3 separate regions of the Homo sapiens genome follow, and all the other regions are reported to be linked to region 1. Evidence: microRNA targets listed by miRTarBase, many of them from high-throughput screens and not tested one by one. Region 1 holds a microRNA gene; each other region holds the end of a gene's coding sequence.
Evidence for each region. Region 1 holds the annotated microRNA hsa-miR-1255b-2-3p (AACCACUUUCUUUGCUCAUCCA, at 1,208-1,229, opposite strand). A microRNA usually pairs through its seed, bases 2 to 8, with sites in the 3' UTR of a target mRNA and lowers its output. Matches are read on the target gene's strand: a 7mer-m8 pairs with bases 2 to 8, a 7mer-A1 pairs with bases 2 to 7 and ends in A, and an 8mer does both.

Region 2: miRTarBase lists TBC1D22B as a target of hsa-miR-1255b-2-3p. Seed matches in the 3' UTR shown: 7mer-m8 at 825-831.
Region 3: the mRNA of ZNF75D is a reported target of hsa-miR-1255b-2-3p. Seed matches in the 3' UTR shown: 7mer-m8 at 2,608-2,614 and 8mer at 1,855-1,862.

Annotation. Positions count from the first base shown.
Region 1 is chr1:167,996,571-167,999,927 of GRCh38, reverse strand. MIR1255B2 (microRNA 1255b-2) reads right to left here and starts at 1,268; the gene lies at 1,202-1,268. The region is part of intron 7 of DCAF6 (DDB1 and CUL4 associated factor 6); the gene reads right to left.
Region 2 is chr6:37,330,707-37,333,706 of GRCh38, reverse strand. TBC1D22B (TBC1 domain family member 22B) reads right to left here. Exons shown (of 13, transcript NM_017772.4): 13 at 737-2,663. The coding sequence ends at 2,535. LOC105375040 (a long non-coding RNA gene) reads left to right here. Exons shown (of 4, transcript XR_007059566.1): 4 at 559-637. Among named protein-coding and RNA genes, the nearest start is that of RNF8, 22 kb to the left of the region's middle.
Region 3 is chrX:135,284,493-135,287,849 of GRCh38, forward strand. ZNF75D (zinc finger protein 75D) reads right to left here. Exons shown (of 7, transcript NM_007131.5): 7 at 1,299-3,354. The coding sequence ends at 2,645. Among named protein-coding and RNA genes, the nearest start is that of ETDC, 23 kb to the right of the region's middle.

The DNA.
Region 1 (3,357 bases):
GCAAATTTGTAAATGCAAAGGAAAAGTTCTGGAAGGAACTTTTAGAAAAGTGCTACTCCAGTGGACATATGAATGATAAGAAAACGAAACAGCCTTATTACTGATATGGAAACAGTCTGAGTGGTCTAGAAGGAAGATCAAACCAGTCATCACATTCCCTTAAGCTAAAGCCTAACCCAGAGCAAGGCGCTAAATCTCTTTAAAGCTATGAAAACTGTTAGAGGTAAGGGAGCTGTAGAATAAAAGTCTGAAGCTAACAGAGGTTGGTTCATGCAGTTTAAGGAAAGAAGCTGTCTTTCTGTAACATAAAAGTACAAGGTAAAGCAGCAAGTCCTGATGTGGAAGCTGCAGCAAGTTATCCAGAAGATCTAGCTAAGATAATTGATCAAAGTGGCTACCCTAAACGACAGATTTCCAATGCAAATGAAACAGCCTTCTATCAGAAGCAGATGCCATTTAGGACTTTCACAGCTAGAGAGGAGAAGCTGATGCCTGCCTTCAAAGCTTCGAAGGACATGCTGGTTCTCTTGTTAGGGGCTTATGCAGTGGTGACATTAAGCAGAAGCCAATGCTCATTTACCATTCTGAAAATCCTAAGGCCCTTAAGAATTATGTTTAATTGAATCTGCTCTATAAATGGAATAACAAAGCCTGGATGAGGGCACATCTCTTTACAGCATGTTTTACTGACTATTTGAAGCCCACTATTGAGACCTACTGCTCAGAAAAAAAGATTCCTTTCAAAATACTACTGGGCATTGACAATGCACCTGGTCATCCAAGGGCTCTGATGGAGATGTACATGGAGATTAACATTTTCATTGTATCCCATAGATCAAAGAGTAATTTCAACCTTCAGGTCTTATTTAAGAAACACATTTTGTAAGGCTATAGCTGCCACAGATAGTGATTCCTCTCATGGATCTGTGAAAAGTCAACTGAAAACCTAGAAAGGATTGACCATTCTAGATGCCTTATTAAGAACTTTTGTGATTCGTGGGAGGTCAAAATAACAATATTAACAGGAGTTTGGAAGAAGTTAATTCCAACCCTAGTGGATCACTTTGAGGGGTAGAAGACTTCAGTAGAGGAAGTCACTGCAGATGAGGTGAAAACAACAAAAGAACTAGAATTAGAAGTACAGACTGAAGGTGTGAGAATTGTTGCAATCTCATGATAAAACTAACAGATAAGGAGTTGCTCCTTATGGATGAGCAAAGAAAGTGGTTTCTTGAGGCGCAAACCACTTTCTTTGCTCATCCGTAAGAAGCAACTCCTAGTGAAGATGCTGTGAACACTGCTGAAATGACAACAAAAGGATCTATTATAGAGTACTACATAAACTTAGTTGATAAAGCAGCAGCAGGGTTTGAAAGGACTGACTCCAATTTGGAGAAAAGTTCTATTGTGTGTAAGAAGCTATCAAACACCGTTACAAGCTACAAATACATCTTTTATGAAAGGAAGAGTCTATCGATGCAGAAACTTCACTGATGTCTTATTTCAAGAAACTGTCACAGCCCCAACCTTCAGCAACCACCACTCTGATCAGTCAGCAGTGATCAACATTAAGGTAAGCCCCTCCACCAGCAAAAAGAATACAACTTACTGAGGTTCAGATGATTGTTAGCACTTTTTAGCAATGAAGTATTTTTAAATTAAGGTATATACATTGGTTTTTAAGATATAATGCTATTGCACACTTAACAGACTATGGTACAGTATAAACATAACTTTTACATGCACTGGGAAACCAAAAGATCTGTGTGACTTGCTTTAATGCAATATTTACTTTATTGCAATGGTCTAGAACCAAACCTGCAATATCTCCAAGAGAAGCCTGTATATCTGGGAGGAGAAGTATGGCTCATATAATAACTCTAATTTTTTGAGGGTTCCAATTTCTCTACATGTTTGTCAAAACTTGTTATTGTCTGTCTTTTTTATTTTAGTCATCCTAGTGGGTATGAAGTGATATCTCACTGTGGTTGTGATCTGCATTTCCCTGAGGACTAATAACGTTGAGTATCTCCTTATGTACTTATTGCCATTTCTATTATATGTCTTCTCTGGGGAAAAAAAAGTATTATATATTCAAATCCTTTACCTATTTTTAAGTTTGGATATTTGTCTTTTTATTGTTGCACTGTAAGTGTTCCTTATACATTCTGGATACTAAACTGTAACCAGACACATGATCTGCAAAACATTTTCTCCCATCCTGTGGGTCACTCTTTTTATTTTTATTTATTTTTTAAAAACAGCATTCATTGATTTTTTTTTCCTGAAAATTAAACAGGTTTTGATAAAAACTTGGTGACACTTAACAGTGAATTTTCTGATTTCTTCTGGAAACCATACCTAGTAACATGAATAGAAAAAAATCTTTGCATCCTGAGCAAAGGAGACAGAAAAAAAAATCCCCATAAATTCCATATTATGTGTAAGTATGGCTAAAGGCAACTGAGAATAGTAAAATCTACACAGGAAGACGTAAGTGTGTGACAGGGAATAACCAGAACAAAGCTTAATGTGGCAGCTGTGCAAATTCTCAAACAACTAATCACTCCCAAAAGGAGAGGGCTTCATCCTTCATACGAACTATTCTTAAAACAATATAATAGAATCTTGCTTCATGGTTTCAACAGAGAGGAATTTTTATATTACATAGCCAAAGAACTGGTTTTACAACCTCAGCAATTATTTATAGAATAAAATCTTCAAATTAAAAACAATCTCAAATTTGACTTTCTGAGTATGTGAAATAACCTAGGCAAGAATACTGAAAATGGCGTTTCATTCACCAAATATTTTTTGAGCACCTTTTATATGTCAGGTACTATTACAGGTATTGGAAAACAACAATGGACAAAACACACAAAAAATCCCCAATGTCACAGAATTTACAGCCCGATGGAGCAAACAACACATGAAATGAAAAAGCAAAATATACATAGAAAGTTACTGTTATGGAGAGAAATAAAGTAGAAAAGGGGATAGGTAGTATCAGTTAAAGGCCGTGATTTTAAATAGGATGGTGAAGTAGGGCTTCACCAAGAAGGTTACATAAGCAAAGACCTGAAATACACAGGGAAGAAAAAATCCAGGTATCCAGGGAAGAGCATTTCAGGCAGAGTAAATGCAAAATCCTAAAATAGAGTCATGCTTGGCCTGAGTTACTAAGCAAGTAGATGTGGTTAGAGCACAGTAAAGAAGAAAACAGTAGAAGTAATAATTAGGACCAGATAATATAAGATCTTGAAGCCACCATAAGGACTTCAGTTTTGCTTTAGGTCCGACAGGGAGCCACTTAGAATGTTGATGAGAAGAGCGGCATGATTTAACTTATGTTTCTAA
Region 2 (3,000 bases), not on the chromosome of region 1:
CCTATTTTTGGTTTTTATTACACATAGCTGAATTTAATTTTTATGTGGTTCCTAATGACTGAAACCAAGAAATACTCTCAAATAAATCCTAGGAAGGAATTCTGGGTGGAGAAACCATTCCAACCTGTCCTTTGTAGATGAAATGTAATCAGCTACCTTTCTTGAGATATTTCACAGTAAGGTTACCAAGAAAAAAAAAACAACAGCTGACAACCGAAAAAAGACTTAAAGACAATCCTACATGGCGGCCATCTTAGTTCTTTCTACTCTGGTGGAAACACACTGAACAGGCAAGCCAGGAGGACACCGGGTCTCTGGTTCTGACTCTGATGCTGTCTTCCTTGGCCTTGGCTTGGATTTTCCTCTGCGAATGAGGGGGTTAAACTAGATATCTCCAAGTTTTCATCCAGCACTGAAATTCTAGTCTGTTTTCTACCCTCTATCAGATAACATACTTCTTTTAGATGAATGAAATAATCCATGTAAAGTGCTTCTCAAAGTGGTTGGCAAGTTAACTCTTTTTAGTAGTTTCATTTACCAAGTTACTCATTTTTGTAGTTTCCACAGTACCTTTCATAGATGGATGTCGGGTAAGTGTTTGCTGGTTGATCCTCTGCTGATGCCCTGCTCACCTCACAGAAGGCCTGACCACACACCTACTAGTATCAGCAAGAAAAACTCAAAAAGAGGAGACTCTTTAGGTTCCATGGACACATACAGGAGAAAAACCAGCAGATGGAGGAGGAAATACACCATTTATTTACAATTCTTTTCACTTTATCCACAATTTCCCATACAAACATAAAAACTAAAAAAATAAAACCACCACTTGGGAACACAAGTGTCTTTCTTTAATTAGTCCGGTTGAGGGAGGGTCTCAAGCCCTCTCACTCTATGAAGGAGACCACTGAGGCACACCGAAGGGGAAAAGGAAGAGGGTTGGGAAGAATGCCTGAGAAACAGCTCCAGATGAGAAACCTAACTCACACCGATGTGGTGGGGCCTCACTGGCAAAGAGACTTGAGGGTGTTACCCACCAGGGACACTGCTCGGCTTCCCAGGAGGATGACAGCTGCTGGCCCCCATCCCCCCACCCTCCACTACCAAATACCAAAACTCAAACAGGGGTCACACATCTCATGAGCTGTGTGGGGAGTGAAGGTGACAGTAAGGGATATGGAGTGCTGCTCTCTGAGAAGAGCCCCAAACCCGAGGGACACACAAGAAGCCCCTTTCCTTGGCACTGAGTCTTCAGTCACAGCTTCTGTCCGAATACAATGCTGAACTTGAAAACGTAAAAACAAAAGCCCTCCCCAGATTCCGGGGAAGGTGGGGATAAAAACACATAGAGAGGGCTTGCCCGCCTCTGCAGTCCCTTCCTGGGGAGGCTGCTAGGAGCAAAGGGCAGATGCTCCAGGAAAGTCTGGGGGTTGGGGGGCGGGGTGAAGAAAGGGGCGAGGAGGACTCTGAGACACTGATGCTTGGGATGGCTCCAGCTGCTCAGCTACTCACTTCAGCAGCCTCCCGTTCTACCCCTCACAGCAGGACACCCAGAACCAACCTGGAGGTGCTGAAGCCACCTTCCTGGCAACTTCCTCTGTGCTAGTGACCTAGATTGCTTTCACATGTTGATGCACATTATAAATATAAAATCATATCTGCTACAAAGAGGACATATATTTGTACATCTTTACCCATATACATAATAACACAATTTACACATAATATCTTGGAGTGGGTCATCATGGAAAAGGGGTCTGGAGAGCCCCTTCTGCCTCCCCTGCCCCAATCCCTCTTCAAGGGATGCTTATACACTTGGTCACTGGGGCCCTTCCCAACTAGTTTGATGGGGCTCGTCTGGACACAGAAATTCAGACATGTGACTAAATGCTGATGGGCATGTATACACATTCACACCCACACACACATGCAGACACCTGGTGAGAAAAGGAAAAATAAAATTCCTAGCCCTTGGGTGTAGGCCTCTTTCCAGAGTTACAAGCATCAGTGCCTCCTCCATCTAGAATAATGGTTTTAAAAAGCTACCCCTCACTGGCTCAGACTGGGGCAGAAGGGGAACGGCTAGGAAACCAGGAAGAGGGAAGAGGGGCCAGGAGTCTTTCGAAAATATAAGGCGTTTTTGACCTGTGATCAAATCAAACTATGTTCACAAAAAAAAAAAAGCAACGGTTATCAGTTGGGGCCTGTCCTTGTAGGGACAATGTGAGGTGAGACCCTGAGCCTTCCCCTTCTTTGTCCAGTTTCTTTTAAAGGGGCAGACAACCCTGTACCACCTTTTCTGTCCTCTCCCAGAACTGGGCCCATCCACGCGGCATGGAATACTGACAGTGGTCCAAGTGACACATCCAGAGACATGGAGTGGTGGATGCCAGAAAGTTAAGACCTGGGCGGTGGGTGTGAGCTTTGTACAACAGGAGTGGTTCCTGGCCGGGGTCCACGGCTCGCACAGTGGCCACAGTGATCAGACTGCCATCAGAGATGAAGGCAGTCTGGGTCCCCGGAGGAGACAGCACCTATCGGCGGTAGTGATTTGGGGCATCGGCAAACATGTACTTGAGTCTGTATGCCTCGGCGAGAAGCAGCCCAATTTCTTCGTTGCCCCAGTGTATTGTAGGTAGGTTCTGTAGCAGCATGAGGAGACCCTGGAATGCAAGAAAGGACTTTTATATCATACCAGACCGTAGACCATCAGACAAGTGAACCCATTCTTAGAGACCAAGGCCTAGAATGGGGCCCCTTCCTCCTGGCTCACACATCTCAAAGAGTCCAGCCTCCTTCCTCCCAAACAGTACACAGCTTTCAGTCCTAGTTCACCTCAGGAGGTCTTGAAAGCCTCTGCTGATTCTCTAGTCCACTAACACCTGTCTCTTTAAAAACATAAAAAACATAAATAGGGAATGACAACAATAAAGATTTTTAAGAGAGAAAAATAATCACTTATCCAAATATACCTCTCTTAATCTTAAAGTATTCATTTTC
Region 3 (3,357 bases), not on the chromosome of region 1:
TGATTTCTAGATCCTGTTCCACAACCTCAGGGATGAGAATGTGCTTTTTCCTGGGGCCCTTGTATTCAAATGATGGTGGAGTATCTGAACTTGGAATAACAAATCCCAGTTCTCTGTTTCTGCTCAGACCCATCTAAAGGCAGTCACTTCCTGCCACTTGCCTTAAATAATTGATCTCTCAAATAGAACCCATGTTCCCTGCTCTCAAACCCTGCTGATAATGATGCCAGTGTAGATGAGGACCTGCACGATAAGCTTTGAAGGTAACAGGTATTATAACAGGGGTAAGCAGCTTTAGGAAAGTGGAGTGCTCTTTTGCTGACTTGTTCTGGGGGACTTTGCTGATTCTCATGAGTATAACTGCTGGGTCCATTGACCTAGTACATCCTTGAATTTTTTAGTTAACCTCCCTTCTTTATAAAAGCTACATGAATAAATTTATTTGAATGGTGGTATGATAGCAGCTATCCAGGATGCTAGCAAACATGGATTCACACAAAGAGAATGGAGTCCCCTGCAGGAATTTGAATTTCCCATTTTAGTTTCAAGGGCACAATCTCAGATCATTCTAGGAGGAGGGGTGGTGAGGCAGTCATAGTCTCCAAGCCTTTGGGAATATGAGATCCTTTCCTCCCAGGTCACTTCCTCCTTTTGGCTTAGCACTTTCATTCTTTTTAGTCGCCATTATGTGCAGTCACCTCTTTCCTCTTTCATTTCTACTTTATTGGCTTGAGGATGCACCTAGTAGCATAAATACTGTCCACAAAAATTCCACCCCTAGCCATCACCTCCCCTCCATTTTCAGGAATCTCAAGTTGAGGGTTTGTAGTATATTTTGGTTTTGTTACTCATGAGCAGTATAGCTAGCTGAATTGGGACATCAGTGTATTGTTTCAGGCTGACTAGAGAGGAGCACCTCTAGAACCAAATGAATGTCATGCCAGAAGGCTACCATTCTGACCATCATTAGTGGGCCTAAAAACCAGCTAGAAATGATGGAAAACTCATTAATGAAGAATGCTTAAAAGCTGGGCAAGTAGACAAAGCTTATTTTCTTTTCTAAATAACTAGGTGAAGGAAGAATGAAGAAAGTTCCAAATGTTTAGGAAACACCAAATGTGGCCAATCATTGTGTCAGACATGCTCACATGTGTGCATTTAATCCTCACAGTAGCCCTAAGAAGTAGGAATTATAATCCTCATTTTATAAATTTGGAAACAGGCTTAGAACGGTCTCTTGGTGGAAAAAATATCTGAAGACATCCATTTCAAAAAAGCAAACATTGGCCATTTCTGAGTGATTTGGTAACAAAGTTTTGTTTATTGTCTAAATTTAAGATAAAATGTGTCATTTTCATTACGAAGTACAATTTTATGGAATACTAAATAAACATATATAAATAAGCCTTGGCCAACATTATAAACCAGGATCTGACATAGATATAAATCCATGCCTTCCAACTTCCCTTGACGTCACATTATCTTCTCTTAAGAGATAGTCACTTTGGCTAATAGGGAAAAGAAAACCAGTAACATCAGAAAACAATTTCCATCTGGCCTGGCTCTGACTGGCATCATCACTGTGAGCCATATGCCTTACTTTTCTCTGACACTTCAGGATGTTCCCTCCTGGTATCAGCTGTGCACCAAAGCTAAAAGTTCACAAGGCTCTCCTTGCCATTCTCAATAAATCAGTTTTGCAAAATCTCCAGGCCTTCTTGCAGAGTATTCAGGCATATAGGGTTGTAGTTGATCAGCCATAAAGATGGGGCTCCCTTTAGGTCCTGCAGCAGTATGGCACCAGTTTGAAAGCCTCCATCCAGTCCACATAATGAAAGTCAGAAAAAGACCATTTACCACTTATCTGTGCTTTCTACAAAAAAAAACCAGATACCTGGATGAGGGCCAAGACTGCCTCCCTCATCATTTCACTATATGTCTATGTTGACAAAGTCAGCAAGAGGAGAGATATCAAGTGCTTGCAAGGTCCCTAGGCCTGTCCTTACATTCAGACCTTCCCTTGCTACTTGTAATTCCTTGACAGAAGACATTGTGGTAGTGGGTACTCAGGAGAGAAGCAACAAGAATGGGACAATTCTCCCAGGGCAAACACTGAATCCTCTCTTTCTGTTACAGAGTAAAGTTCCCTGAGTCCTGGTCTTGATTGTTCATGTAGACAGAATGATAACTATTGAAACTGTCCCTAATTTAGTAATTCTCTCTGAGCTCCCTTAAGAGGGCCCAAGTACTCTTATTTTCCATTTCTCTTGACAAAGAGTAAAAAATGAGACTAAGAGCCTTGACTATCATATGTCTGTTGAGCACTTGATACCTGAAAAATTTAGATGACTGGGGGTGGGGAAGCTTTGAATAACCAGATATATACATATAGATAGATAGCTAAAGGAATCTCATCACTACACTTTCATTTTTTTATTTATAAAGTACTCCTTATGTATCAACTCTTGTGCTAGGCACAGAAGATGCAATGCTGAATAAAACAGACAGCTTAGATTCCTTTTTGTGAAGTGTAACATGTACCCTTCCCAAATGTTTTATTAATCACAGATTCCTATCATTGGGTGCCTCATAATTTTGTATTCTTTCACCACTTCTAAAGTCAAGCTCTACATGGTAACTTTCCTCAGTTTGGAGACACTAGACATGCTTCCCTTCTTCTGTGGAGTTTCTGGTGTCTAAGAAGGCTCGATCGCCTACTAAAGTTTCTCTTGCATAAGCTACACGTATAAGGCTGCTCACCTGTGTGAGTTCTCTGGTGTTTAATAAGGTGGGAGTTCTGAATGAATCTTTTTCCACATTCATCACATTTAAAGGGCTTCTCTCCTGTGTGAATTCTTTGGTGTGTGTGTAGATTTGTGTTATGACTAAAGCTTTTCCCACACCATGAGCATCTATATGGTTTTATTCCTTGATGGGTCATGAAGTGCTTATTAAGATCTGAACTCCATCTAAACCTCCTGTCACATTGTTGACATTTATAGGGTTTCTCTCCAGTGTGAATTCTGTGGTGTTTAATAAGATCAGAGCTAACTCTGAAGCTTTTCCCACATTCCTGACACTTAAAAGGTTTCTCCCCTGTGGGGCCTTTCCCATGAAGATCCATAAGTTTTGGAAGCTCTTGTTTACAAGTTGCAGGTTTCTTTCTTTTCTTCCTTGGAAAAGCTCGATGCCATTTCTGTACACTGTGTGTATCACCAGGATTTTCCCTGCCCATTGTTTTCTGGGCAATTTTCATTCTGGTCTTTTTTGATACTTCGCATCCTGATGTTTGTATTTCTGATGTAGAAACAGATATAGGATGATCATTTCCAGTGTCATTTTTTAGCTTTAACCCTG